2 separate regions of the Homo sapiens genome follow, and region 1 is linked to region 2. Evidence: fine-mapped expression QTL. Tissue or cell type: whole blood. Region 2 holds a variant in brackets; the other region holds the start of a gene. All regions are shown on one strand. Distances are between the middles of the regions. Region 1 holds the start of CLEC4F (C-type lectin domain family 4 member F). Region 2 holds the start of FIGLA (folliculogenesis specific bHLH transcription factor).

Evidence for each region. PIP is the estimated chance that this variant, and not a neighbour inherited with it, causes the effect.
Region 1: it holds the start of CLEC4F, and the variant in region 2 is fine-mapped to the expression of CLEC4F in whole blood (TOPMed, PIP above 0.99).

Annotation. Positions count from the first base shown.
Region 1 is chr2:70,810,429-70,825,976 of GRCh38, forward strand. It overlaps CLEC4F (C-type lectin domain family 4 member F), which reads right to left and starts at 10,171. Exons shown (of 7, transcript NM_173535.3): 1 at 10,035-10,171; 2 at 9,347-9,463; 3 at 8,927-9,016; 4 at 5,566-6,684; 5 at 2,019-2,170. The coding sequence starts at 10,095. It also overlaps the pseudogene MOB4P1 and a transcript of CD207 not described here.
Region 2 is chr2:70,789,265-70,804,812 of GRCh38, forward strand. FIGLA (folliculogenesis specific bHLH transcription factor) reads right to left here and starts at 1,379. Exons shown (of 5, transcript NM_001004311.3): 1 at 1,144-1,379. The coding sequence starts at 1,374. It also overlaps the pseudogene HMGN2P21. RefSeq lists an enhancer at 10,822-11,376. The variant C/T (reference allele first, on the strand shown) is at 4,610.

The sequences.
Region 1 (15,548 bases), 21 kb after region 2:
GCCAGCATGGTGAAACCCCGTCTCTACTAAAAATACAAAAATTAGCTGGGCATGGTGGCAGGTGCCTGTAATCCCAGCTACTTGGGAAGCTGAGGCAGGAGAATCCCTTGAACCCGGGAGGCGGAGGTTGCAGTGAGCCAAGATCGCACCATTGCACTCCAGCCTGGGCAATAGAGCGAAACTCTGTCGCAAAAAAAAAAAAAAAAAAAAAAAGTATTTCCCATTTTAAAAGGCAAACACAGGATACAAAAACCTATACTAAACAAAGAAGCTATAATATGGATACACGATTGATGTGTCTAAAATGATATATACAGTACGTAATTAATGTTAATTATGTGATCAGTACATTTTCCCATTTGATTCCCTTCATGCTTCACTTTCCCCAGAAATTGAATTCTGTACTCCCTCTTCTAAAATTGGTACAATCAGGTTATCCTTGGACATCAAATTATATTTCATCACAAATTTAATAAACCAATGGCACAAAAATGTTTCATTTTCATATTCATCAAATATCTGCCAATGATGAAAATAAACATGTGAAAATATTCTGTAAATTCTACGGCATACTGATTTTGGTGTCACTACAGATGATTCCTTTATGCTAACCCTGCTGGGAAAATATTTATTGCCATTCAGAAGACATGCAGCACCAACAAGTGTGTGTCTAGTATAGTCTATAGCACGACACTCTTTTGGAGTTTTATGAGCTATGCAAAGAAAAATCCATTGTTCAGCTGCTGTCATTTGAGTACAAGTATCTGGATGGCATTCACGCTGAAGTTTGACAGCAAGTCCAATTAGCTCAAGGCACAATTGTCTTAAATGTCATACTTCCATACACCTTCATCTTGGCCTTTAGGTGCTTCAAGAATTTTGTCAATATTGGAGCAATCTGCTCTTATGTTCTGTTGAATAGACTGTTGAGCAGCTAGTGTACTGTCCATTTTATCAAAGGATTCATCAGGCCAATTATAGATATCCTGTGCCTTGGTGCCCTGCCTGTTCTGCCTCAGCACTGCCATCCCCTCTGCCATGACCATAGTGCCAGCACCTCCCATAGCTTATTAAGAAGATGTGTTTTACGAAGTTGCATGTTCTTTCTCAGGCCAGTAACAGTGGTCTCAGGCGAGCCAACAGGGGGGTAGGCAGTTCTGCAAGTCAAATTGGACCACAAACATTGTGGTTCTTTGTTAGTAATCCTGGCAAGTTCTGATAAGGACCACGACAGTGAGCCACCTGGGACGGTATTGCGTTTGGTGGTCCTCGGACCCATAGTTGTGTGCCTGGTCTTCCCAAGAAGCCTGGGTCTCCTATTCATGGGCCCTCTACAGCAGCTGGATTAACTGACATTAAAATCAAGACAGGCTGGATGCAGTGGCTCACTCCCAGCACTTTGGGAGGCCCACTTCGGTGAATAACTTGAGCCCATAAGTTTGAGACCAGCCTTGGCAACATGGCGAAACCCCATTTCTACAAAAAAAATACTCCCCAAAATTAGCCAGACATGGTGTCGTGCATCTGTAGTCACAGCTACTTGGGGAGCTGACCTACTCAGTGGGCTGAGGTGGGAGGATCGCTTGAGCAAGGAGGTCAAGGTTGCAGTCAGCCATGATCAGGCTACTGCACTCCAGCCTGGATGACAGAACGAGACACTGTCTCCAAAAAAAAGATGACTGGAAACAAGCCTGAGAGAAAAACAAATGCAAGAGAAGGGAAGTGTGCTCCTAGCACTTAAGGGCATCACCTGATGCCACCTCCCCTTGGCCTTCCTCCCTGCTGATGTCTCTTGACCTCTGGTGTCTCCCTCATTCATGGAAGACATGGAGGTTTGCTGTCAGGGATTCTACCTCCAGTGCATATGCTCATCAGAACTCACTCAATATTTGCTCCCTGCCTGGCAGAGGAGACATGGAGGTCTCCGTCATACCCACTGAGAGCAGGAAGGCCAAAACACCAAAGTCCCTTATTCCACACCAATTCCACCAACAACACCCCATGCTCGCAGCTCTGACCTGCTCCTCCTTGGAGGCCACAGATGCCAGATGGGCTCCCTGGGACACGCAGAACTGCTCAGCCTCATGCCAAGACTTCTTGACACTAGAAAAATAATATAAGCTTCCACCATTGAACTTCCAGCCTTGCAGGACCATCTGGAGAAGCTGACCTGGAGCAAAGATTGGGGAGAAAAGAGAACCAGGAGCTGCTGGTAGGAGTCCCAGAAGGAACTTTTCTGACCTCTCTAGGGCCTGCCCACTGAGGTTCACAAGCCCATGAAATTCTTGATGTGCAGTGCTCCAGGAGAAAGGCCTGGGGGGCTGCACTGCCATCTCACTACCCAGCACTCCAGGAAGCAGCCCTCAAGACGCCTGGCTTGGGCACTCCTGGGAGGCTCAGGCAGCTCTCTCTTTCCAGATACCTGCTTCCTGGCTATCCTGCCCTCTCTCCCAACTCATTGCTATCACCTGACAGTCCTCTCCACCCCAACTCCTGCCATCTTCCCTGGGGATTTTACAGGTATCCCATAGCCTTACTCATTACCTTGTCTTCATCTCCATCCACTTGCACTGCCACACCCATGGCCATCCTGGGACCTGGTCATCACCTGGTCTGCCTGGCCTTCCATTTTTCAAACTCTTATAGCTCATCCTGTGAGCACAAGCCCCAATTCTGTCAGCTCTTTCTTCCCTCCCTGCCACAACAGCCTGCTCTTTGGCGTCATCTATGCCACAGCTGTTTGAAATGGTGCCGCACAAGCTCAATTAATCACCAAATTGTTCTTTTGTTCAACGTGCATTGTGCAACGTTCCTTAACTTCTTCCAGCTAGCCACTGCCATACTGTACAAAGATCAATCAGACATGATTGATGCCCTTAAGGAACTTAGAGCCTAATAAATGAGACAGATGGAAAAAAGGTGTTGAAGATGCATTGACTAAAAAACACATGCACAGTAGAATAGTCACGGAAGAAGGTATGGTCTGTTTCATCTGAGCAGGAGGTGGGGCTCAGGAAGGACACCCTGGATGAGATGTTACTGGAGCTGAGTCTCTCTTTCTTTCTTTTTCTTTCTTTCTTTCTTTTCTTTCTTTCTTTCTTTCTTTCTTTTTTTCTTTCTTTCTTTTTTTCTTTCTTTCTCTTTCTTTTTCTTTCTCTCTCTTTCTTTCTCTTTCTTTCTTTCTTTCTTTCTTTCTTTCTTTCTTTCTTTCTTTCGCTCTCTCTCTTTTTCTTCCTTCCTTTCTTTCTTCCTTTCTTTCTTTTTTTGAGACAGAGTTTTGCTATGGATGCCCAGGCTGGAGTGCAATGGTGCGATCTTGGCTCACTGCAACCTCTACCTCCCGGGTTCAAGCGATTCTCCTGCCTACCCTCCTGAGTAGCTGGGATTACAGGTGCCCGCCACCATGCCCGGATATTTTTTTTGTATTTTTAGTAGAGATGGGGTTTTGCCATGTTGGCCAAGCTGCTCTCAAACTCCTGATCTCAGGTGATCTGCCTGCCTTGGCCTCCCAAAGTGCTGGGATTACAGGCGTAAGCCACTGTGCCCCGTCTGGAGCTGAGTCTTAAGGGACTGAGGAAGAGTTTGCCAGGTGTTCAATGTTAAGGAGAGCACCCCAGGCAGGGAAAAGGATCAGCACAAAGGCATAAAGGTCAGGAACAGCCGGGCACAGCCTGATCTATTCAAGCTACTTGGTATTCTTGGGACATAAAGGATGGGTGAGTGATGAATTTGGACAGGTTCACCAGCACTAAATGGTACATCCCATGTGAAACAGTTTGGATTTTTTTTTCCCTATGAGCAATGGGAAGCACTGCAAGGTTTTGAGAAGGATGGTAATATGTCCAGATTTGCACTGGAAAAACGTCAACCTGGTGGAAGCTGAACCAGAAGAAGGTACTCCTAATGAGGACAGAAACACCAATGATAACACAATGGCGAAAGTCCCAGTAAGAGATGGGTATAAATCAGGGGTTCGAAAAGTGTGGTCCCAGACCATCAGCATCACCTGACAACGTGGTAGAAATGCAAATTTTCAGGACCACCATAGCCCTACTGAATCCAAAATTATGTTTTAACAATCTGCTTCAGCAAGCCCTCTGGGGGTTCTGATGCCCAGAACTAGTCATCTAAACCAACCATTGGCAAACTCTAGCCTGTCAGCAGTGTCTTTTTAATAAAATTTATTTTATTATGAGCGTAGCCATGCTCATTAGTTTACTGTCTTTTTCTTTTGCTTTATAATTACGAACAGAGTTGAGTAGTTGTAACAGAGATCGTACAGCCCCAAAGCCTAAGATATCTAGTTCTTTGTCCTTTAAGAAAAAAAATTAAGCTAATAGTTCTCAGCCCAGATGCCAGTAGATCCACCTAGGCATTTAAAAAAGAATACTGATGCCAGACACCCTCACCAAAAAAAAAAAAAAATCACAGTTCTGGAGGTGGGTCCCCAGGCATCAGTATTTTCAAAGCTCCTTGGGCGATTCCAGTGTGCCCCCAAAGTGGAGAAACACTGGGCCCAGCTAAAGCAGCAGTGAGAGCTGGGAGGAATAAGGACATTGGGGCACTAGGAGATGTGTGAAGAAGTGGGGCCTCTGACCCCAGACCAGGAACCGGGCAAAGCAGTAAAGTGGAACGTCACTGCTGCCCACCAAGCCCTCATTTGTTAGCCCCCATTTCTTCAGTGGCTGCCCCAAACACTCCCTTCTGTCTCTCAGCTGCCCTCTTGTCCACAGGCCAGTCAAAGAGAACTGCCTGAAGTTTCCAGAATCTCATGATTTTGTGTCTCCATGCCTGCAAACCCTATTTGCTTGGCAAACACCTACTCATCCTTCAGGATGAAGTTCAAGAGCCATCTTCTCACAAAGCATCTTTTGATCTTTTCCCCACAGATCTCTTCCCTCCCCCTAGAAGATTCCTTTTCCCTTCTTTTTGTTCTGCCCCCAACCCCAGTTCTCAGTACCTGCTTCTAACCTATCAGCCTTATACCTGTCTGTATGTCTTTCATGCAAGTCTGTACTACTAGCCTGTAAGCTTCTCAAGGGTACCTATCACACCTTATTCACCTTTTTACCCAGCACACCACTGGGCCTCAATAAAGCATCGGGTGAGGGCATGAATGCTAGGTACTTTGTTAAAGGCCTTACATGTGTGAACTCATTGGATCCTCACTGTGATGCAAATATTATTGTCTCCCCCTTGCAGATGAGAAAAGTGTAGCTCAGAGAAGGTAAGTAACAGGCTCAAGGTCATACCATTTGGGGTATCAGGAAGTCAGAAATAAGGCTGTGTGGCCCACTAGCCCATGCCGTCCTTATCACACACGTGCACCATTTACAGTTGGTTTCCCGTGTTCATTTGGTCACCGTGACCAGGTTATAAGCAACTTGAGAGCAGGAACTTCCCACCTCACACCATCTCTACAACTGCCCAGTTTCCTTGGGCCCATTTCCCTGGATTTGGTCAAGGAGATGCATGTTGCAGTAAAAAAGAGGCTGATGAGATGGAAGACTCTACCCTCTCAAGAGACTGTGCCCTCCCCAAACGCGACTCCCCTCTCCCACTTACTTTGGGTTCTTTGTAGCTGTTCCTGTGAAGTAATGACCACATGGAGGGTCTTCAGGCGACTCTGCTCCTGCTGGATTTCCATGGTTAGAGCTTTGGTGTTCTCTAGATCCCCTCTTAACCTCTGGATCTCGGCACTGGCCTTCTGCAGATTGCTGTCTAACATCTGGGTCTGGGAAGTTAAGGCTGAAGCATTCTTCATTCCTTGTTTTAGGGTCTGTATCTCTCTGCTGGCATTTTTCATATGACCATTTAAGACCTGAATCTGGGCATTTAAGGTATTCACATTTTCCATCTCTGACTTGAATACCTGAATCTGAGTATCTGTCTGGTCCAGACGGCCATTTGCTTTTTGGGTCTGGGCTGTGACCATTTTCAAATCCCTTTTTAACACGTGAATTTCATCACCAGCTCTTTCCAAATGACCTCTTAAGAACTGGATCTCAGCACTAGTGTTGTCAAAACTGCTTTTTATAAAGGCCTGGGTCTGGGAGTTTAAAGCATTTGTGTTCTGCAAATTTTCCTTTAGTCCCTGGATCTCAGCATTGGCTCCTTCCAAACTATTTCTTAAAACCTGGTTCTGGGTCCTCAAGTCATTGACACTATCTAGATGGCCTCTCAAAACATAGATCTCAGCATTAGCGTTCTTTAAACTGCTATTGGCTAACTGAGCCTGGGTATTTGCCGTTTCCAAACTGGCATTCAACATCTGAATTTCAGAGTTTGCATTTTCTAAGCCTCTGCTTAGCACGTGGAGCTCAATGCTGGTGTTTTCTAAACTGCTTTTTAAGAAATTCAGCGTCTGGAAAGTTAAAGCATCTGCCTTTTCAAGGTCTTCCTTGAGCCTCTGGATCTCAGCATTGGTTCCCTCCAGGGAACTCCTTAACATCTGTGTCTGCAAACTCAATGTAGTGGCATCCTTTAGAACTCCTTTTACCATCTGGATGTCAGCATTGGTGTTTCCCAGATGATCACCGAGCACCTGGAGCTGCGAATTGACATTGTCCACTCTGCACTTCAACATCTGGATTTCTACTACCCAGGCACTGGAATTCTCCATGTGGCCTTTAAATGTCTGGATAAGCTCTCGCATTTCTGCCTCCCTGCCAAAGTGGTGATGATCTGGAGGGAGGAAGTGAAGAAGGCAGCCAAAGAGGCCCATTATGTAGGGTAGCATTTTATGGGCCACCCAGAGTGTTTCTAACATTTCCAAGGGAAATGGGTACTGCACAGCCCTCAGTGCTCCCCCAAGCACCCTCCTGGTCACACAGCCACCCAGACCCTGGGGACGGTCCACCTGAGAATGTGGGCCAAGAAACAAAGATCTAATTCACTGTTACACACAAATGAAGGGGTCAGAAGGATTGAAATGCTTGCCTGCTGTAAGCCAGCTGCCACCAGGAGTCATGCTGGTAAGGCTTGGATTATTTTGTCGTTATAATTGCTCAACTTGAAAGTAACTGATTTTATCATTTAGAGCTGTTGAAGTTTAATTTTACTGGAATTTCACCACAGATGGGTCATTATGGGAAAGAAAATAGGTATGAATAAAGCCTGTGGTTAGTCCTACATTATATTTGTACACCAAGCATAGAGCCTCTTGATTCACCATTGTTACTTGATAAAAACCACCACAAACATAAGTTTTATGATGGCAAATTCCATGGAGAAGAAAACACAAAGGAAAGAAACAGAAACAAAACAAAATAGGTGTGCTGGGAGGAAGTACCCTGTTCAATCAACAGGGCTATGATAGAGGCATGCCATGCCCTCCAGGTAACTAACACTGGACCTCAGCTGAGATGGCCTTTTAAAGAGCCAGCACCCCCAGTGTTACATAGGGCAAGGGTCCCTACAGAACAGTTTGAGGATACAGGAAACCTGAGTAAAAGGCCTTGCGCTGGGGTCGTTGAAGGAGACCCCACAGCCCCTTTAATCTGCAAGGTCTTTCCCACCAACCTCACATGCATCTACCTCTGGTCCTGCTAGCATCCTTTGTTCACCTCATGAACTAGGACCTAATCTCACACATCCATGATCCCCTTCTGATTCCAGTCTCCCCTCAGGAATAGGGAGAAAAACCCAAGATGGCAGGGACCCTTTCTGGAGCATCCATGTACTATTTCTCATGCACTGCCTATGTAGATGTGTGAGACCTCAGTTACTGTGCTAAGGTAAGAGAGGGGACCTTTCAAGGTACTGGGAGTTCAGTCAAAGATTCTGCTTTGTAAAGATAGACAAACAAATCAATGCGACAGAATGGAGAATACGGAAGTAGACCCCCACACATATGGACAATCGAATTTCAACAAAGGTGCAAAGGCAATTCACGGAGAAAGATAACTTTTTCAACAAATGGTGCTGGAACAATCAATTTCACACCATTATACAATAATTAACTCAAATGAGGCAGAGACCTAAATGTAAAACTAAAAACCGGGCTGGGCATGGTGGCTCACGCCTGTAATCCCAGCACTTTGGGAGGCTGAGGTGGGCAGATCACGAGGTCAGGGGATCGAGACCATCCTGGCTAACACGGTGAAACTCCGTCTCTACTAAAAATACAAAAAATTAGCCAGGCGTGGTGGCGGGCGCCTGTAGTCCTAGCTACTCCAGAGGCTGAGGCAGGAGAATGGCATGAACCTGGGAGGCAGAGCTTGCAGTGAGCCGAGATCACGCCACTGCACTCCAGCCTGGGTGACAGAGCGAGACTCCGTCAAAAAACAAAAACAAAAACTAAAACTAAAAACTGTACAATTTCCAGAAACAAAGGAGAACATCTTTGTAGCCTTGGATTAGGCAGATTTCTCACATACGAGATCATGAGAATAATCCATAACAGAAATAAAATGATAAATTAGACTATCAAAATTAAAATCTTGTTAGGAGAATGACAAGACAAGTCACAGACTGAGAGAAAAATATTTGCAAATCACATGACTAGCAAAGAACAAAGAGTACATACTCTATGATCTCTTATCTATAAAACTCTAGAAAAAGCAAACTAATCTATAGTTACAGCAAGTAGATCTGTGGCTGCCCAGGGATGAGGAGAGGAAGGGAGAGGAAGGAATTACAAAGAGCCACAAGGAAACTTTGGGGTGAGGAGGATGACTATGTGATGATGATTGTGGTGATGGTTTCAGGGGCACACACATATGTCAAAACTTAACAGATTGTATGCTTTAAATATATACACCATTAGACCTCAATAAAACTGTGTTTTTAAAAAATTATCTCTTTCTGTGAGGATGGTGGAGCCCATTCAGTGGTCAGAGGGTACCAGGAGAGAAGCTCATCCTAGGGTCTGAGCATCTGAAGGCCCCAGTTCCCTCTGCACCCCACCCCCACTGTGGCTACTCACTGTTGGGTTCAAAAGGTAAATGCCCAGTAATGTTGTCTCCCAGAATTACGGCTTGCACAGGCTTCGGAACAGGTCTTGTCTGCTGTTGAACTGAGACATTCCATTTTTCCAGGTCAGCAAATCCCCAGCCCTGAGCCTGGGAGGATACGCTGTCCCACACAGAGGTAGAGTTCCAGAACCGGGGAGATAGCAGCAAAGACCCTCCCAGGGTTTCCCTCATGAACCTCAGTTCTTGGGAGGCTCCCCCTTGGACAGTGGCCTTTATCTGTTCCCAGGGAAGCTGTGGCTTGGGCCTGGAGCTGGAGGTGGAATGATCTTTCTGGGAGCAGAGAGGCCCAGAGAGTGTGCATCTGGGGCCCCTGGGGACTTTGTGCTGAAAGGAGAGAAAGTTAGTGAGATTTGGGTCACCTGGGGGCTTACCCACTACAAAGAGAGTCACAAGAGAGAAGACCAAGGTCACAGCCATAAATGCCGGGGTAGCCTGAACGAGCCTCGGTATCTTGGGGGCTGCAGGAGCCATTGCCACAGAGTCCACCTCTGCAGGGGAGAAGGCAGTGTCCAAGGTGAGAGGGTGCTGTGCAAGGTAAGAGGGTGCTGTGCAGGCTGAGACACAGCCTCTCTGATTCTGTTTCCTGGGTTGTCTAATGGGGATGATAACTCCTGCCATGCTTATCATGCAGGTGGTTATGGAGAAGGAAGACAAAACACTTTGGGCTGTTCACCAGAGCTAGATGTGGATATGGTAGCAACACAGAGCTGAGGAGCTCTGAGACCGAGACCACCGATCTCCAAATCTCAAGGAGGCTTTGGTGGTGCACAGGGCACAGAACCTGGCACAGAGCACAGAGCAACAAAAGTGTAGTTTGAATGAAAGAAGAAAGGAAGGGAGGGAGGCCTCACAGGACCAGCTCAGTGTGCAGAGCCGGGATTCCAAGCCAGGACCATCTGAATTCAAAGTTCATCCCCTTTCTCTTGCCAGGTCTGCATCCCCAAGGACAAGGGTCTGGGGAGAGCAATAAGACAGCAATAAGCTGCCTTATGGCAGAGGGCCAAAGGACAGGCAGGCTACTCCCTCACTGGGCAAGAGCTGGGGCCCCAGTTTTCTCACCTTGGGGGTGCAGGGAGACACACTGGTTATCTGTGCAGAAGCGGACTGCCTCACCGTCCATCTCTGCTTCCTTGATCCTCCAGCACTGCTCCCAGCCACTGGCTCCTGGAAGGGCCGTCCCGTGGACCAATGGCAGTGGAAGCAAAGCTGAGACACCCACACTTATATGCTCCTGACCACCCTCCCAGCTCTTCCTCCCTCCCTGCCTGACTCTGCAGAAACCCGCCCCAGTGGGCCCCTCCCCTAGAGGCTCCCAGATACCCATCTGCCCTATTTTCTTCCTCTTCCCATTAGCACCTTCCCGTCAGTTCTCAGCCCCATCATCCCAGCCTCTGCCGCATCCAGCATAACCCCAAACACACCTCTTCTTCTCTGGGGGCTGGGACTGGCACCTAGGAAGGGGGTCTCAGCTTTGCACAGAAAACATCCTTATGACTATGGCTGACCTTTAATTCTAGCCTCAGAACCTCTTAAGTAAAAGGAGTCAGGTAAAAGAGGGGCCAGGTCAGTGCGGCCGATATTTGCAGGTCAAAGGAGGAAGCGGGGTGACCAGCCACTTGGGGACTCACAACTGAATTATAGTATACAGGAGGATGTGCGGAGGTTATATAAAAATACTACATGATTTTGTACAAGGGACTTGAGCATCTGTGGACTTTGGTACCCATGGGAGTCCTGAAACAAATCCCCTGCAGATACCAAGGGACAACTCTGTAAAAAATATATCTGGTCTTCATCTCAGTTCCTGACACAGAACTCCTAAAACGCTTAGAGTTTCCTGGGTGACAGGAGTGTTTTTTGTTATTCATAATAAGCCCCTTAGGACTACACTTGGGTTTATGCTAATGAGGTGACACAGGGTGGACCCTTAGATAATTTCAGGCTGGAGGCTGGTCCCAGAAAGACCAAACATGGGATTAGACTTTGGAAGACTGGGACTTTCAGCCACCCACTCCCATTCCCTACTCCCAGACCTCCAGGTATGGGAGATGGCCTGGGGTCTGGGCTATAACGACTCTTAAAAAATGAGATTCAAGGAGCTTAGGGATTGGTGATCCACATGCCAGGAGGGTGTCATGCCCTGACTCCACAGAGACAGAGTCTCCTGCACTTGGGACCCCACTGGGCCTTGCCCTGTGTACCTCTTCATCAGGCTGTTTTTGTCCTTTACAATAAAAGAATAGGAAGTACAGTGTTTTTCTGAGTTCTGTGAATTGTTCTAGTGAATTATGAAAACTGAGAGGTTGTTGCAGAAACCCCCTAATTTTTTGTTTGAGACAGGGTCTCCCTCTGTCACTCAGGCTGGAGTGCAGTGGTACGATCATAAGTCAATGCAGCCTTGAACTCCTGGACACAAGTGATCCTCAGTTCTCAGCCCCAACATCCCAGCCTCTGTCACATCCAGCATAACCCCAGCATAACTGGGACTACAGGTGTGTGCCAACATACCTGGCTAATTTTTTATTTTTATTTTTTTGTAGAGATGGGATCTCTTTTTATACCCCAGGCTGGTCTGGAACTCCTGGCTTCAAGTGATCCTCCCACCTCAGCCTCCCAAAGTGCTGGGACTACAGGCATGAGCCACCTTGCCTAGCCAGAACCCCCAAATTTGTAGTTGACCAGGCAGAAGTGGGGTCACTACCTCACTTGTAGCTAGCATCTGAAGGGGGGCAGTCTTGTGGGACTGAGGCCTTACCCTGTGAGATCTGTGCTAACTCTGGAAGTTAGTGTTAGAATCTGTTTGAATTGTTGGATGCCCAGCGGGTGTCAGAGAATCGGCTGGTGTCAGGAAAAAGCACACATTTGGTGTCAGAAGTGGTGTCAGAAAATACCAAGCAGGCCCCAACTTTAGCTGATTGGATCCATGCCTCCTGAGGTGACCAGGTTCTCAAGACTAACTCCAAAGAATCTGATGGAGCAGGCTGGGGCCAATGTGTGGCTTTCAATGAGCCCTATCCCTTCCAGGAGGAACAGATACTGCTTCAGGGGTTCCTGCTGCTGGGTGGGCCTAGCATTAGAAGAGAAGGCATGAGGCATCCCAGTGGACAGTGCCATGGAGCTGTGCAAACGTGATGTCCCTGTCCCTGCCACAGGGGTTACCAGCTGAACAGAACCAATATTCCCATGGCTGGTCAAGGAACCCCTCTAAAAGCCAGTGCTGGGGTTACCAGCAGATTCCTGTTCTTTGGTTCCTTCTTGTCTCCATTACTTCAAACGGTCACAATCTTTTTGAAATAAATCACATTTTCTTTCACTTTGGAAAGTCTAATTACATATTACACCATCATAGCAACTCTTAAACAAACTCACAACCTTGCAAATGGCTTGTTCCATCCATGTTGTGTTGTTTCTTTGCTACTTTCACCCTCTGTTCCTATGTCCCATTCTCATGTCTTTTGCACAGATCCTGGGGTCAGCCTCTTATAGGTCCCCAGCTGCCAACTAACAACACTGCAGACCAACCACAAAGGTGGAGAAGCCACACGGAACGTGCCTCCTCTGAGGCCGGGCCAGGAGAACAGCTTTGGCCCAGGAGGAGCCTGTGCCATGCGTGGCTGATGTCAACCCGGCAAGCAAGTCGCCCCGTGGGTAGGGGATCTGCAGACAGGAAGGGAGCGGTTGCCCACACCCAGTTCATGATGGTGGGGGTGTGTGTGTTTGTGTGTGTGTGTGTGTGTGTTGAACTGTGCAGTGTTAGGGGCCCAATGTGTAGAGTGCAGAGCCACCATTTGCTGCCTTTTACCTCCTGTTTGTTGAAAACTGACCTTAGAGAGGAGGGCACAGCAGGAATGAAGGGTGAAGGCACCTATTTCTGGACTATCAACAGCGCTGCCTGAGATCCCAGTGGTGTCTGCCAGACTCCTTCACCGCCACATAGAATGGGATGGAAGCTGCTGGAGGTGCCTCCCTAGAGGCCCATCAGACACCCAGGGCTGGTGGCTGAAAAGAAAGGGCTTGTCTTGGTTTCTGTTTCCCCATACACAGGAAGGGCCCAGGCTGGACCTACTCAGGACCTATTTCCTCCTGAGGCCTGAGAGCTGAGGGAACCTCGAAGGCAGAACTCTACGGATCCCTTGCCCAACTGGAAGGTCAGAGTCTGGGCCAGGAGAGGGGCATAGTTCTTCCCTGGCCTCCCCACCCACCCTCCGGGCCCTAGCTCTTCTATTTCCCACAGGAACACCATCTACCAGCAGGGCAGAAAAACCAGGGGGTTGCTATGTCTTCACTGAGAGGCTTTCTGTTCTCTGGCCAGACAAAAACAAATGGGCATTAATACAAGAACTGGCCAGGCACGGTGGCTCATGCCTGCAATACCAGCACTTTGTGAGGCCGAGGCAGGTGGATCACTTGAGGCCAAGAGTTCAAGACCAGTCTGGCCAACATGATGAAACCCTTGTCTCTATTAAAAATACAAAAACTAACTGGGCATGGTGGCAGGTGACTGTAATCCCAGCTACTCGGGAGGCTGAGACAGGAGAATCATTTGAACCTGGGAGGCGGAGGTGGCAGTGAGCCGAGATTGTGCCACTGCACTCCAGCCTGGGTGACAGAGCAAGACTCCAAAAAAAAAAAAAGAAAGAAAGAAAGAAAGAAAGAGTCTACTTGGTGGGACTAAAGCCAAACCAGAGGGAGCCAGAGCCAGGAGAGGGAGAGAGGCGGATTCTTCTTTATGTTTTTTAATCCAGGACATTTTATTTAATAGTAGGGACAGCTTCTTGACATGATGTGAGCACTTGTATTCAGCAGTACAAAGTGTCCTGATTTTACACCCTACAAAATACAGCAACAACAATTCAACACATTTACAGGCCTGAATGCAAACCACCTGGCTTTTATTCCGTTCGTCTCCTAACTGTTCTCCCTGCCTCTCCTCTTACCCCCTCTCAAGTCCTGTCACCATGGTGCAAGCATAATGATCTTTTCAAAAAAAATTAGATGTACACACAAATATTACTTAGCTCTCTCAGCTGGGAGAGGCAATGATGTTCAAATAGCAACAGCCACACAGCCCCCAGGTTTTGATTTCTAACACCATTCTCCAAAAAAAGGAAACCAGGGCTCATTAGAGAAATGGCTGACTCTAGAACTGGGGCAGGAAATACTCAAGATGAGCCTGGAGCATCTTGTAGTACCAGAAAGTAAGGAGATGCTTAGTTACCAAAAAAAAAAAAAAAAAAAAAAAACTGAGGGAAGTATGTCAAAATGACACAGGAACCAATGAAGGAGCTCCCAATGGCCAAAGCCAGAGCAATTTGAGCAAAAACAAAACAAAAAAACAAATAAAATAGTATTGGATTATAACCCAAAGTGTAAGAGAAATATCTGTGAGTCCATACTGACATAAATGAATGTCTGAGTAAGTAAACAAATAGATAAGTCTCTAGGGCAGAAAATGTCCAAATATTTTATGTAAATATCCCATTCTGAGAAAAGTAGAGTGTAACTTCCTACTCTTTCAGTGTGAACTGCATATAGTGACTTCCTTCCAAAAAGTTCAGTACAGGAAAAGGGAGAAAAGAGTAATTCTGGAGTCAATAAACTTGGCAAACACTACCCCAGCCTGGAGATCAAGGTCAACGCCAACAGTAATGAATTCTATTGATGGTATGTACCCTTCATAGGATGTGATGAGAATGGCCCTTTATCTCCATGGTCTTCCTCCTGAAACTCAGTACCCCAATGTAATCATGAGAAAAACACCAGACAAATTCCATTTAAGGGACAATCTACAAAGTACCTGACCAGTGGGCTCCTCAAAACTGTCAAAGTCTTCAAAAACAAGGAAAGACTGAGAAAATGTCACAGCCAAGAGGATCCCAAGGAGACATGATGGCTAAATGTAACGTGGTATTCTGGATGGGATCCTAGGAGAGAAAAAGGATGTTAGGGGAAAACCAACGAAATCTGAATAAAGTATGGACTTCAGTTAAATATTGGCTCATTAATTGTGACAAATGTACCATACTAATATAAGATGTTAACAATCGGGGAAATGGGAAAGGGTGGGTATATAGAAACTCTCTGTATTATCTTCACAATTTTTCTGTAAAGCTGAAACTATTCTATAATATAAAGTTTTTAAAAAAAATTTTTGAGACAGGGTCTCACTCTATCACCCAGGCTGGAGTACAGTGGCGTGATTACAGCTCACTGCAGCCTTGACCTCCCAGGTTCAAGCAATTCTCCCACCTCAGACTCTTGATTTGCTGGGACTACAGGCACACGCCACCACACACGGCTAAGTTTTGTATTTTTTTTTTAGAGACAGGGTCTCCCTATGTTGCCCAGGCTGGCCTCAAACTCTTGTGATCAAGTGATTCTCCTTGAGTTCTGTGCTCTGTGAACACAGGCATGAGCCACTGAGCCCAGCCTAAAAAGGTATTTAAAAGATATTAGGGATGGCTGGGTATGGCAACTCACACCTGTAATCTAAGCACTTTGGGAAGCTGAGGCAGGAGGATCACCTGAGCTCAGGAGTTTGAAGCCAGCCTGGGCAACATAGCAAGACCTCAT
Region 2 (15,548 bases):
ATTTCTGTCTTTTCCAAGTGTGTTAACCTTATCATTATAAAGAATAATAAAGCTTATTCGTGTTTTAGTGGATAAAACCAGGACTGATTCTCTGGAGAAGACAATTCCTTCCTGGTGGGAAGGACCACTTAAACTATTAGATCATAATCTCTTTGTAGGGCCACCGAATCAGATCACAGGGTTCTGTCCATCAAGAGTCTAGTACTGGTAAAAGAGGAGACTTAAAGAAGTCTCCTACTCTCCTGTCGTCCTTTCTGCGCTTGCCCTCTCCCTGCAAAGCTCCTACTTGATTCACTGGGACATTTCTGAAAGGCCTAGGAACAGCCCCGGGCGGTACTTCTCTCCCCAGTCCCAGTCCTGAACGTGCGCTCTGCTCCCTCTTCTACCCCTCACCCTTCTCTCTCCTGGATTCGCCTCTGCTGCAACCAAACCCGTAGACTGCAAACGCTAGGAAGGAGACCATGTCTCCCAAGTTTGGGGCTGAGTTTCGTTAGATAGTAAAATCTACCAGCAGGTGCCGCTCCAACCACGGCCCACAGGACCCTTCCCGTTTGCGAGTTGCTGCGGCTCGACTGGGAAACACTCACTTTATCTTGACAGAGTTGAGTGGGAGTCTTGGGTGCACACTGGGACGTCGTGTTTCGTTACTTTAAAAAAGAAAAGTCACTTCCGTCAGGCCCCCCTTTCTCCTCACCCTCGTGTGTGCTTCGAGGCCGAGATGCAGAGAGCAAGAAAAAGGAGCGAAGGGGATCCCTGCGCGTCCCAAGCACCCACCAGCGCCTACGGTGTGAGATGAAGGCGCACCCCCTGGGCGCGAAGCTTTTAAAGCACCTGCCCAGGGAGACATTTTTGAAGTTGTCAGGGCCCCTCCTCTGTCCCCTCCCAGACCCGGGTCCTGCACAAATCCTGGAGGGTTAGCGGGCGAGGCGGCCACCGCAGCGGCCGCCAACGAGCAGCTGCACGGAGGTGCAGAAGAAGGAGGCCACTGCCATTCTCCTGACAAGCTGGGGGCGTGGGAGGCCTCGGGAGCTCGAAGTCGCCTCGAGCGGGGGTGGGCGGTGAGCGGACCCCCGGGTGTTGACCAGGTGTTTGGTGGTAGAGCAGGGAAGGGGGGAACGGACGTCGACCCTAGGGATCCCTCACCCGCTCACGCTCCTTGGCGTTGGCCACACGCCGCCGCTCCAGCACCAACTGGAGGTTTTCAGTGGACGAGTAGCCGCCCGAGGGCAGCCGCTTGAGCCGGCAGACAGCGGCCAGCTGGGGCAGCGGCCCGAACTGCTCCCGCAACACGTCCTCCAGCACCTCGGCTTGCGGGGTGCCCAGGAGCGCGGGCGGCGCGGCGCGGGGATCTAGGACGCCGGGCGCGGGGTCCATGGCAGGGCCGAGGCCGCTGAGGCCGGGCTTTCACCTGCGCACCCGGGGCCGCACGAGGCCCGGGCGGGGGCGGGGCGGGGGCGGGAGCTGGACCACCTGCAACCATTCCCCGGCTGCGTATTCCAATCCCGGCCTCCTCTCTGGAGGCTGCGTCCAGGCATCGCGTTGAATAAGCCGCACAGGTGTGACTCGGGAGCGCTGGAGCGCAGCCCCGGCTGCACACCTGGAACCGCCGGGAGCGTGGTAGTGGTGTTTTTCTCAATCCACATGCCACGGTTCCAGTCCCCCAAATTCCCATTTAATCAATCTGTCTTGGGGCCTGAGCTTCTGGCTATGTGTATACAGAAAAATGTGATGGATATCCACAAAACTTTTTTAAGAATTCGTTTTGAAATAAAAGTTGCGGGGAAAATGGCAAGAAGAGTTTCTAAGAGCTCCTGTACCCCCTTCGCCACGCTCTCTACTTGCTAAGTTTTCACGTTTGCTCCGTTGCCCTCTTTCTCGCTGTGAATATTCTCATTTTCATTATTCTTTTTCCATTCTATTTGAACTATTTTCTTTTTTCGCGAGTGGGGGGATACATCGCTTTATTCATTTTCCCCCTTTTCCACACAGACCTTTATTGTCAACACAGCCAAACACAGTTGTTACTTCAGAAAATGTGCTGGAAAATAGCGATCCCAAACTTGTTTAATAGTAGAGTACAATTTAGTACTCTAGAAATAATTAACTACATCTTCTGTTTTGAGTAGATTACTCATGAGAGTTTGTTTCTCTGGAGGTTATCAATATAACTGGAACATTCTGATCTTGCACCTGAAAATCAGACATGTTTCTGGAAGCCCTCTGTAAAATCATTCCTTCCAAGCATAGAAATACATTTTTTTTTCTTTGGTCTGAGAAAATATTTTTTCTACGCTTTTGTTTCAGGTTCAGGGGTATATGTGCAGGTTTGTTAAGTGGGTAAATTGTGTGTTGCTGAGGTTTGGTGTACGAATGATCCCGTGGCGTAAGTAGTGAGCCTAGTACCCAATAGGTATCCTTCCAACCCACGCCCCCCTCTTACTTCCCCCTCAAGCAGACCCCAGTGTCTATTGTTTCCATCTTTGTGTCCCTGTGTATTCAATGTTTAGCTCACACTTATAAAGTGAGAACAGGCAATGTTTGGTTTTCTGTTTCTGTGTTAGTTCCCTTACAATAATGACGTCTAGCTGCATCCATTGATCTATTCTTTTTTTAAAGTTTTTAAGTTGCAGACATGCTGTCATATCACCTCTAAATACTCCAGTGGGTATTCCCCCTAAACAAGGCCTCTCTTCCACATAACCGCAACACAACCACTCAAACTAGGAAGTAAGCATTGGTACTGTGCTACCATACAATCCATGGACCCCATCAAAGTACCACCAGCTGTCTCAACAATGTCTTTTTCTCTTCTGGTTGGAATCCAATCCAGGAGTACAAGTTTTATTCTGTTGTCATATTTCTACTCTCCTTCATTCTGGACCATTTCCTCCATCTTGTCCTGTCTTCATGCCCTTGACAGTTTAAAAGAGTAGGGGCCTTTCATTCTGTAGTATGTCCCTCGACCTGGGGTTGTCCACTATTTGCTCATGTCCAGACCCCAGCCATGCCTTCATGGAGGGGCTCCATATAAATGATGCTGGGCTCTTCTCAGTGCATCACATCAGGAAGTACATGAGGTTGATCTGCCCCACCACTGGTGATGTTAACCTTAATCGCCTGGTCAAGGTGGTGGTGTCAGGTTTTTTCACCATAAATTGATAAATATTTTGTGGGCCAGGCACGGTGGCTCATGCCTGTAATCCCAGCACTTTGGGAGGCTGAGGCGGGCGGATCACGAGGTCAGGAGATTGAGACCATCCTGGCTAACATGGTGAAACCCTGTCTCTATTAAAAAATATTAAAAAATTAGACGGGCGCGGTGGCGGGTGCCTGTAGTCCCAGCTACTCAGGAGGCTGAGGCAGGAGAATGGTGTGAACCCGGAAGGCGGAGCTTGCAGTGAGCCTAGATCTGTGCCACTGCACTCCAGCCTGGGCAACAGAGCAAGACTCCGTCTCAAAAAATAAAAATAAAAAAAAATTTTGTGAGGAGATACTCCTTCTCATCCATTGTTGACTCCTACCTGAATCAACCAGCACTACAATTAGAGGCAAATGATTGGCATTCTACTGTGAAAAAGAGCTTTCCCTTCTTCCCATTTATTTATTCATTTTGTATTTATGTCAGCATGGGCTCATGAATTTCTATTTTAGTCACAGGATATAATTTATTTACATCATTATGTTAATGCTCAAATTGTCTCAGATTTGGCTTATGGGAGGCCCTCTAAGCTGGCTCCTCTGTCCTTTTCATATGACTCCCTCATTCTTTGTGCACTTTCTCACTTGTCCCAGGAAGGCTCTTCTTGAATTTTCCCAGCCCCAGCCCAGGGATCAGTCTATTCTTCTTTTAGTGGAAGGTAGGATTTAGAAACCAAGATCTGTGTGCTTGCTTGCTCATTCCTTTTGGGATGTCATTGCTTCTAAGCCCTTTTTGCAGATATGACACATATGTAGGTAAGTACACATGCATGTATTATATTATAATAATGCATATAATATCCTCTAATATAATATAATGCATATAATAACTATATCTGTGTATCTAAGTACATATATATTTAAAACCATGAGTTCACACTAATACCTCCAACTCCAACCCAACACCTCAGGTTCCCTCTAGTTTCTCTGCTTTCCTTTTTTGTAACTCCTCACCCCATATCTGCTTTTGTAACTCCCTTCTCCAACAATGAGAAGCTTGACTCACATTATCCTCAGTGTAATTACTTATTTGCTCAATCCCTGTACCTAACCAATTTTCTAACCACATCAGCCACCTCTTAGGCCCCACCCTTCTTCAGCTCCCACTCTGACATTGCCTCCCAGGAAAGGTCAAAGGAAAGAAGGGGACACACCAAATGTTTGACTGAGGTTCCTTGAGCATGGCCTGGGAATGGGGAAGTGTGACTGCACATCACATCCTCTATATAGCTTATTTCACAATAAACACGGGCCACTTCTGTAATTTAAAATATATTTTTAAGTAGGAAAATACTTTGTTTGCGCTAAGTTCATTTGGTGTTGTCTGCTGGCAGGCAGATGGAAAGCAACAAGGGCCAAAAGTGTGGGAAAAAGCTTAAAATGGAGATAGCTTACCCATTTACTTAACTTT[C/T]CTTGAAAGCATCATAAAGGACATCATTGATATTATTCTATTTTATTGCCAAACCTTGCAGTGAACAAGGTGGTGTACATTAGGAACCCATTGTGAGCACACCAGATTTGATTCCTTCATACCTGTGTTCTTCCATAAACTCCAACTCTTAACTTTCTGGCCTCTGGTCTGTTAGATTCATACGTTATGTCATTGTTCTCAGGGAAAGCAATCATGTGAACTGATTTAAGCTAAAGTGTTACACCTGATGGTGACTTAGGGCTGATACCTTGCCATACACCCAATAATACAATGGCCTAATGAACAAAAAGTTTCACTATCCTCTAACAGTGTGAAAGGTTTAGGTCAGCTCTGCTCCTCAAGGTCACTTGGGGACTTAGGTTCCTTCCAAATTATTGTTCTTCCATCCCTTAGGGTCAACTCCCCTACAGCATTGTCATCATTGGCATGGCTGAGGCTCGGTAGCCACCGTATCTGGGTTCCAGGAGAAGGGCACGGAAGAGATCTTAAGGCCTGACCAGAGGTGGCACATAGGATTCAACTCACATGCCATTGGCAGGAATTCACACATGGCTACACACGGATGCAAGAAAGGGTGGGGGAATGTAGTCTGACTGGGGAGCCATGTGCCTGGCTACAATTCTGTTCAATGGGGAGAACGCATTTGGTTGACAACAGGAGTCTCTGTCCTAGTGCCCCTCTTCTGTGCTCCAGTAGTGCCCATAAGCCTCTGCGAGATCATTTATTTCTCTTATTTTGGCTCCTTGAAGGAGGATCACTGGCCACAGCATCTCCAGCACCTACGGAGTGCTGGCTTGGCACACAGTAGACATGCAATAAACATTTGTTGAATGAGTGAGAAGGCAAATGAATGAATGATGCTTGCAATGAAGTAAAAAAGCTACTTTGACATGGGTAAAATAAGAACCTGCTTATTCAGGTAAAATCTTTCACGTTTTGCCATAGCTGCTTGACCCTATAATATATATTTGTGAATAAATAAATAGATGAATGAAAAAGCTTACCTAAGTTTACATAGAAAGTAGGAAGATCTCTCTGCCATGGAAAATTGAAGGATAAGTGTCCTCTTAGATGCTGGTGATATACTATGGTTGATATACACAGTACTGGCTCAGTTGCATTCATCCTATACTGCTCTATGGGTCTAGTAGGGAGTTTCCTGTTCCAGGCTGCCTGAAGTATGTGAACATCTTTAGGTCCCAGAATGCATTGCTCTCCTTGTGTTTGCTATTCCTGCTTATTGCTCTTCCTTTGTGGGACCAGACCTCTTGGGATGCAACTGATAACATCCTCTCTTTACTGCTTTTTTGTTTCCTGAGTCCTAAATACCTTGTAGTCCAGTACAATGCCAGCCGAATGGAGTCCACCCTTGGAGTAAGGATGGGGACACACAGCTATCTCAAAACACAATGCCTTGAAGAAAGGGGATCCCTGTCTAGTTTGCTGATTGATACAGACACTAGGTCTCTGAGTCAATGGTGCAAAAAGCAGGATAAGGCTAAAGGACCTTTTACCAATTTCTTATTGTTGCTCTGTTTCAAAAAGCAAGACATGTGCTTGCTTCAAATCATGTTTCTGACCTCAGCTCCATGACTATTACAGGTAGTCGGTAAAATTTCTCTGGCAATTGAGTTACTACCTGTCTTGGTTTCTGCTGCTGCTGTCAGTTTTGCCTTTTTCTGTGTGTTATTATGTATTTTAGAGGGAAATGAGAAGACTCTTGGTCAAATGCCATTTTAAAGAGAAAATTCCCCTAATACTGGCTTTAAATAACACTTTTTTTTCATTTAAAATTAAGAAAGCTATTTTTTCACTTAGGGAGAGTTAGAAGGCATGCAGTAAGAAGGAACTCTTCACCTTTGCCTGATGACATAAGGCTGGGTGAGATGATGACTTAAGGCTGGCACATATTGAATGCTAACAAATGTCACCATTATTGTCACTTCTCTTGCTAGAAAAGCTGTTTCCCTCCATGCCTGTGGGCGGCTAAGGAAAGGTCAAGACTGCTCTGTCTACCTGGGGACAATTAAACAACACTCCTCCCGAATCCTGCCTTGGAAGGGGAGGGCAGGGACAGGAAGGAAAGAGGGGGAACCTTAGCAGTGATCAGGACACACTCCAGGCAGAGGCTTCCAGCAGGCCAGGGAAGCAGAATCTCAGTTTGGACCCCTGGATTTGGAGCATTTGAATTTTTCTGACTTTGGGTAGGGGGACATTTTTGTTTGTTTTTCCCTTAGGCTTTCAATACTCTAGCCTGTTTTACTTGTGCAAAGGGGCCTATGAATGATATTCCTAAAGCCAGGAAGAGGTAATCATGTTAAGCAGAGTGAAAAAAAACCCCCAGGGTTTCAGGGTTGTTGTTTTTTTTTTTTTAAGCAGTACCTCTTTAACAAGCCATCCCTTCCTTTCAGGAACTCCCACCCCAGGTGCCTCATCACCCCACCCCACCCCTTCCAGAAGGGATTGAGAGAGATAAGGTAGGTGGGGTGTCATTCCTGAGCTGTCCCCTTAGAGGCCTCTGCAGGGAGCCTGCCTTGCAGCAGCAAAGACCTCAGGCCATTCCCCCCAGCAAGGCTCAGTGTAGGCTCAGAAGCTCTTCTAGCTATTCTAAGCAGATGCCAAAGGATTTCATTCAGGATCCTGCTGCTTACACAACCATCAGAGGGCTGGAGAGGCAGGAGGAGCTCTGAGTTTGAGAACACACCACTGCCACTGCCATCAACCCCACAAATGTGGGGAAGGGGCCTAGGACACGGTGGTGGAGAAACGCCTGGCCCCATCTCCTTGCTTTCCACAGAAAATATACAAAAGGACAGGAAGGTGAGCTCTGCCTCACTTTCACCCTCTCAATGTCCTACAACAGTTTCTAATTAAATCATCTTAATTGGCATTCAGAACACTGGGTCCTAATTCTGAAAAATGAAGCTTCTGCAGTGCCAAAAGGCATGAGGTGGAGGCAGCCAATCCACATTATCTTCTCCTACGAGACACAGAGAAATTGCCCTCGCTCCATCTCCAGCCGGTCCACCTTGTCAGTCTTTGCCCGTTAGTTACCCTAGGCCTAGCTGAGAAGAACTCTCCCCTGCTGGGTCTGCCCTCCTGGGCACTCAGCATCCCTTATCACGGTGACCACATTGTGGCTCACACATGCCACCTTTCTCCCATTAGCTCAGGCAAGACAAGAAAGAGCTGCTAAAAAAGCAGCTTTAGTAAAGGAAGACCAAGAATGCATTTTAAACAGGGACCAAAGACTATAGTCAAGCCTATATTGCCCAGAATTCCCATCCAAATCGATTTGGCAATTTCATGTTGTTCATATTCACATAAATTCACATTGTTATGATGATATATTATTTTTGACACAGCATTATAATTTTATCCCACTGTATCCTGGGCATTAGACTTTCCTCCCATTGTGCACATGAGAAAATTGATAGAGTTAAATGACCGGGCAAGGTCACGCTGCCGGTCAGTAGCAGAGCCAAGTCTAGAACTCAGCTTTGTCACATTCACTGCACGTTTGTCACATTCACGTTCACTGCAGCTCTCTTTCCTCCAAGTCTGAGTGGCCTCCAACCCAAGAACACTCAGCACAGCCTCACATTTCCAGCTGCTTGGGTCCCGGCACACAGGTCCTGCCTGCTTGCTATGTGGATTATTTCACTTCCCTTGGGGGCCTTCTCTTCCTCCACCCCCACCAAACATGAGCTGGGATTAGTGTATTGTCTACACCACCAGCAGGGTTAAAAGAAGTTCAAAAGTGCCTCTCAGAGAGAGAACAGAGAACAGAGAAAAGGAACAGGCACAGAGACTCTGCCCTTGGGCTTTGTCTCCAGGAAACTGGCCAAAGACCTTCCCTTCCCAGAGCCCCTTAGCTCAAGAGCTTCTCATTGGTGCTGCTGTGCTTCAGAGCCCTGACAAGACATAAAGAGAGACCTACAGCCTCGTGAAGAGGCCCTGGGAAGCTTACAGCCATGTGAGCTGCAGTGGCCTTGCAGAAGAGCTGAGAAAATGAAGCAGAGAGTGGGGGCTACAGGCAGAGGGCCATGGCTGTCAAGGGGGACCTTCTGCAGCAGGGCGTTTGTATGACCTTCAGGCAAGTCATCTGTATTCATCCATTTTCACACTGCTGATAAAGACATAACTGAGACTGGGAAGAAAAAGAGGTTTAATTGTATTTACAGTTCCACATGGCTGGGGAGGCCTCAGAATCATGGTGGGAGACCAAAGGCACTTCTTACATGGCAGTGGCAAGAGAAATGAGGAAATGCAAAAGCAGAAACCCCTGATAAAACCATCAGGTCTCGTGAGACTTATTCACTACTACATGAACAGTATGGGGAAACCACCCCAAAATTCAAATGATCTCTCACTGGGTCCCCCCCGCAACACGTGGGAATTATGGGAGTACAATTCAAGATGAGATTTGGGTGGGGACACAGAGCCAAACCATATCATTCCATCCCTGGCCCCTCCAAATCTCATGTTCTCACATTTCAAAACCAATCATGCCTTCCCAACAGTCCCCCAAAGTCTTAACTCATTTCAGCATTAACCCAAAAGTCCACAGTCCAAAGTCTCATTTGAGACAAGGCAAGTCCCTTCTGCCTATGAGCCTGCAAAATCAAAAGCAAGCTAGTTACTTCCTAGATACAATGGGGGTACAGATATTGGGTAAACACAGCCATTCCAAATGGGAGAAATTGGCCAAAACAAAGGGGTTACAGGGCCCATGCAAGTCCAAAATCCAGCAGGGCAGTCAAATTTTAAAGCTCCAAAATTATCTCCTTTGACTCCAGGTCTCACATCTAGGTCATGCTGATGCAAGAGGTGGGTTCCCATAATCTTGGGCAGCTCCACCCCTGTGGCTTTGCAGGGTACAGCCTCCTTCCTGGCTGCTTTCACAGTCTGGCATTGAATGTCTGCAGCTTTTCCAGGCACACAGTGCAAGGTGTAGGTGGATCTACCATTCTGGGGTCTGGAGGACGGTGGCCCTCTTCTCACAGCTCCACTAGGTGGTACTCCAGTAGGGACTGCGTGGGAGCTCCAACCCCACATTTCCCTTCTGCACTGCCCTAGCGGTGGTTCTCCATGAGTTCCCTGCCTCTGCAGCAAACTTCTGCCTGGGCATCCAGGCGTCCATACATCTTCTGAAATCTAGGCAGAGGTTCCCAAACCTCAATTCTTGACTTCTGTGCACCTGCAGGCTCAACACCACGTGGAAACTGCCAAGGCTTGGGGCTTGCACCCTCTGAAGCCACTGCAAAGCTCTATGTTGGCCTCTTTCAGCCATGGCTGGAGCAGCTGAGACGCAGGGCACCAAGTCCCTAGGCTGCATACAGTACAGGTACTCAGGGCCCTGCCCAAAAAACCATTTTTTCCTGCTAGATCTCTGGGTCTGTAATGGGAGAGGCTGCCACAAAGGTCTCTGACATGCCCTGGTGACACTTTCCCCATTGTCTTGGGGATTAACATTTGGCTCCTCATTACTCATGAAAATATCTGCAGCTAGCTCAAATTTCTCCTCAGGAAATGGGATTTTCTCTTCTATTGCATTGTCAGGCTGCAAATTTTCCAAACTTTTATGCTCTGCTTCCCTTTCAAAACTGAATGCCTTTAGCAGCATCCAAGTCACCTCTTGAATGCCTTGCTGCTTAGAAATGTCTTCCACCAGATACCCTAAATCATCTCTCTCAAGTTCCAAGTTCCACAAATTTCTAGGGCAGGGGCAAAATACCAGTAGTCTCTTTGCTAAAACATAAAAAGAGTCACCTTTGCTCCAGTTCCCAAGAAGTTCCTCATCTCCATCTGAGACCATCTCAGCCTGGATTTCATTGTCTATATCATTATCAGTATTTTTGTCAAAGCCATTCAACAAGTCTCTAGGAAGTTGGAAACTTTCCCACATTTTCCTGTCTTCTTCTGAGCCCTCAAAGCTGTTCCAATCTCTGCCTGTTAGCTAGTTACAAAGTCGCTTCCACATTTTCAGGTATCTTTTCAGCAACACCTCACTCCTGGTACCAATTTACTATGTTAGTCCCTTTTCATGCTGCTGATAAAGACGCACCCAGGACTGGGAAGTAAAAGAGGTTTCATTGAACTTACAGTTCCACATGGCTGGGGAGGCCTCAGAATCATGGTGGGAGATGAAAGGCATTTCTTACATGGCAGCAGCAAGAGAAAATGAAGAGATGCAAAAGTGGAAACCTCTGATAAAACCATCAGATCTCATGAGACTTATTCACCACCAAGAGAACAGTATGATGCAAATTATCTCCCACCGGGTCCCTCCCACAACAGGTGGGAATTATGGGAATACAATTCAAGATGAGATTTGGGTGGAGACACAGAGACAAACCACATCATCATCCAAACTCTCTGGGCTTTATCTCCCCATTTGTAAAGTGAGGGTTCTAATAGAGCCTTCCTCAGAAGTGAAGTGAGGAGTGAAGTAGGCCATCAGCAAAACAATCACGACTAATGCTTGCACAGTGGGATCCGTGTCCCATGCACTATCCTAAATTCGTCCTATGCATTGACTTTCCTAATTGTCACAGCACCCCCACGAAGGAGGTACTGTAGTTACTTCCATTTCACAGAAGAGGAAACTGAAACATGAAAGTCAATGAACCAGCTTTCCCAGCTAGAAAGGAATGAAAATGGGATCGGACCCAGAGTGTTTGGCCTCAGGGCCTGGGTCTATAACCTCCAAGCTCTCCTGCCTCCCATAACCCCCACCATGTTGTTAGTTAATGGTAGCATGATTTATGAACCAAATAGAAAGTCCAGAAATGTGGTTATCATACAGACAAATCCTAAGTGACCCAGGCTAAGGGGTGGTCAGAGCACCAATGCAGAAGCTACAATCAGAGCTGGTTGAGGAGACACTAAGGGGCTTGGCTCAGTTCCAGTGACCCCATGGCAGAAGTGTGATGAAAAGCTCATTGGGGTCATCTTGAAGAGGGCCTGGGATCCCAGTCCTGGCACCTGTATGGTGGAGAGTGGAAAATGCTTGTCAGGTCTAAGAAGTCAAAGATTGCAACAAAAGCAGGGCTTTGGGGAGATTCAAGAGGCAGTGAGATGCAGCTGCTTTGGGGAGTGAGGCAGGGTTGCACTATGGACAGCCTGCTGCTTGGGGCCCTGTCCTGCAGGAAGAAGCCAGATGGCATGGACCCTCTGGCTATCCTAAAGCACATGGACCCTCGTGCCTCCCAAGAGAAGCCAAGGCATCCTTACTCTTCCGTGACTCTCATTGGGGCCTGGGACTCTCACTGGGGATGGGGAGGTCCTTGGAGTTGGTTGCCTAAGCTGCAGCAGGAATTGCTGGCTGGCAAGGTGGAAAAATTTATAACTGGCTCTTATAAGTGAGAACAATACACAAAAGAGAGGGTCCTTCTGAGAGGCATGGTGGAGGCACACAGGAAGGGTTGGTCCCAGGCCCAAATTCATGTGTCAGAGCAGTGAATGCTGTGTGTATCTAGTGCATGAAAAGGGCTGGGCATTTGTTGGTAGACATCAAAATTACTGACTAAGCAAGTGTAGATTTTCCTCTAAACCAGTGACATCCCTCATCCTCAAAATGCTGTTACATCTTCCTCCAGAATGTGAGAAACTTCTCCCTGCCCCTGGAAAACCAGGTCTGAGAGTCATTTCGTAACAACTGTAATGTCTATAGCTTCTCCTACTTATGCTAGAGTCAGGCTGTCCCCTAAAGCACAATGAGTGGGACCCCAGACTCCACGGTGAGCCTCATGCCCGGAAAGACTAAAAATCTCTGGGAGAGAAGGCTGTGGGCACCTGAGTGTCAACATCATACCCTGTGTGGTGGCAGTTGTCTGTCACAGCCTGCTAGTGCCACCAAAACAACCCAAGGTCACAGAGAGTGGCAGCTGTACAGAGTTCCCACAGTGGAGGCAGGGCGGGCAGGCCCTCCAGTGAGACAAGCCGGCCACGTCCCCCAGGTCACCCGACAACTGCACTCTGTCTCCCCAGATGGTTCCAGTCAGTCTATGGAGAACTTCATTCCTCTGCCTCTCTCTTGAGGAAACTGCAGCTTTCGGAACCTCCCCTGAAGGAGAGAAGGGGGCAGCGGGGACATGAGAATTGACCCTGAGGAGTTGGCAGGAGGGAGTCCTTCCTGTTTACCCGCCCCAGTCCAGCCACTTCTTTGTTACCTTTAGACGGCAGGGCAAGGTTGGCTGGATTGATTATGACAGCTCCTTGCTGCTCCACACCATCACCTCTCCACAGGACTCCTTCCTGGGGTTGTGAGAAGGGGCTGAATGTACTAACTACCTCTGCTCCCTGCTAGAATGCTAGCCTCATGAGGGCTGGGATTTTTGTCTGTTTGGTTCACTGTTGAACCCCTAAAATCTAGAAGAGTGCTTGGTACATAGTAGAGGTGCAATGAACATTCCTTGAAGGAATAATTATTGATATAAAGTAAAATTCCCGAAGTAGATTTCATAGTTAATTGATCTTGGTGGCTGGGCTTGTAATCCCTGCACTTTGGGAGGCTGAGGTGTGCAGCTCACTTGAGGTCAGGAGTTCGAGACCAGCCTGGCCAACATGGAGAAACCTTGTCTCTACTAAAAATGCAAAAATTAGCCAGGCATAGTACATGCCTGTAATCCCAGCTATTCAGGAGGCTGAGGCAGGAGAATCGCTTGAACCCAGGAGGCAGAGATTGCAGTGAGCCGAGATCATACCACTGCACTCCAGCCTGGGTGACAGAGAAAGACTCCATCTCAAAAACAAACAAACAAACAAACAAAACAACAACAACAAAACAATAGTTATTGGATCTTGGGCCAGGCACAGGGACTCATGCCTGTAATCCCAGCATTTTGGGAGGCCAAGGCAAGAGGATTGCTTGAGCCCAGGAGTTTGAGACCAGCCTAGGCAACATGGTGAGACCTCATCTCTACAAAAAATAAATAAAATTAGCCAGGTGTGGTGGCATGCGCCTGTGGTCCTAGCAACTTGGGAGGCTGAGGTGGGAGGATCACCTAGACTGAGAGGTCAAGGCTGCAGTGAGTCAAGATCTCACCACTGCACTCCAACCTGGTTGACAGAGCAAGACCCAGTCTCAAAAAACAGTGGGGGTTGGTTGGGTGGAGTTAGTTATGAATCTTTAGACATTAAACAAAGTAACTGAAATGGAAGAAGAAGAGGCGAGAATGACCCCCCGACCGATCAAAGCCTGTGCGCCGCTGCATCCCGGGCCCAGCATCTAAGTCCCACTGCTGTCACCGCCGCCACCTTGCCCAAGAGGAAGACCGAAGGGGATGTTAAAGGAGATAAAGCCAAGGTGGACACACCTCAGAGAAGATCCACAAGGTTGTCTGCTAAACCTGCTCCTCCAAAGCCAGAGCCCAAGCCTAAAAAGGCCCCTGCAAAGAAGGGAGAGAAGGTACCTAAAGGGAAAAAGGGAAAAGCTGATGCTGGCAAGGAGGGGAATTACCCTGCAGAAAAAGGAGATGCCATAACAGACCAGGCCAGGGAAGCTGAAGGTGATGGAGAGGCCAAGTGAAGTGTGTGCATTTTTGATAACTGTGTACTTCTGGTGACTGTACAGTTTGAAATACTATTTTTTATCAAGTTTTATAAAAATGCAGAATTTTGTTTTACTTTGTTTTTTAAAGCTATTATGTTGTTAGCACACAGAACACTTCGTTGTTTTTTCTGGGGGAAGGGCTATATGTCACTAATAGAATGTCTCCAAAGCTGGAGTGATGTGAGGAAAACACCTTTCCCTTCTAGTTTTGGGAGACTTCCTCTTGGCTCCCGGGAGGAGGGATTCCCTGACTTTGATACACATGAGTACCTTGGCACTAAAGCTTTGTGTTTGGAAAAAGCAATTCATTTTTATGTCCTCTTCTCCCTTTCTATCTTTCAGCATAGACTTAACTCTCTTAAGCCCAGACATCTGTTGGGACCTCATCCCCAGTCATTGGTTACCAGTGTGTCAGGCAATCTGGACTTTCCAGTGGTGCCACTGAGATGGCACCTGTCTAAAGAGCAGTGGTTCCGTTCCTAGACTGTGGATCTTCAGATACATTCTGCCATTTTCATTTCACTTCCTGAAAGTCAGGGTCACCTCGTGAAAAGTTGTTAAACAACATGCTAAATGTGAAATGTCAACCCTCACTCTAAACTTCCCCTGTTCAGAGCATCAGATGAAGACTTCATTGGGTTTTATAGTGGCTTTCTGATTTTTGGCAGTCCACTGAAGAAGGGAGTTTGAAAGTTGTTGCATACTGTTAACAATTGTCTTCCATGTCCTGCCTGAAATACCATGATTGTTTATGGAAAGTATCTTTAATAAAGCTGGATACAGTTCGGCTTGGAAAAAAATGTAACTGAAATATATATATAATATATATATAATATATAGGTATATAAATAAAGGCTCTTAAAAATAAGAGGAAAATGTGACAAAATGATAAACATCATGAGAGAGTTTTAAAAAATCCTCTCAGAGAAACTGATTGATTGAGTAGACAAAACATAAATGAGAATGTAAAATGTTTGCATAATGAAAATTATAAGCTTAATCTAATAAATACACCTATAGAACATTTATAAAGAGTGAGCATATACTAGGCCACAAAGAGAATCTCAGGAAATTCCAAAAAAGTAGGCCATGTTATTTTTATTATTATTATTATATTTTATTATACTTTAAGTTCTAGGGTACATGTGCACAACATGCAGTTTTGTTACATAGCTATACATGTGCCATGTTGGTTTGCTGCACCCATCAACTTGTCATTTACATTAGGTATTTCTCCTAATGCTATCCGTCCCCCAGCTCCCCACCCCCCAACAGGCCCTGGTGTGTGATGTTCCCGCCCTGTGTCCATGTGTTCTCATTGTTCAACTCCCATCTATGAGTGAGAACATGCGGTGTTTGGTA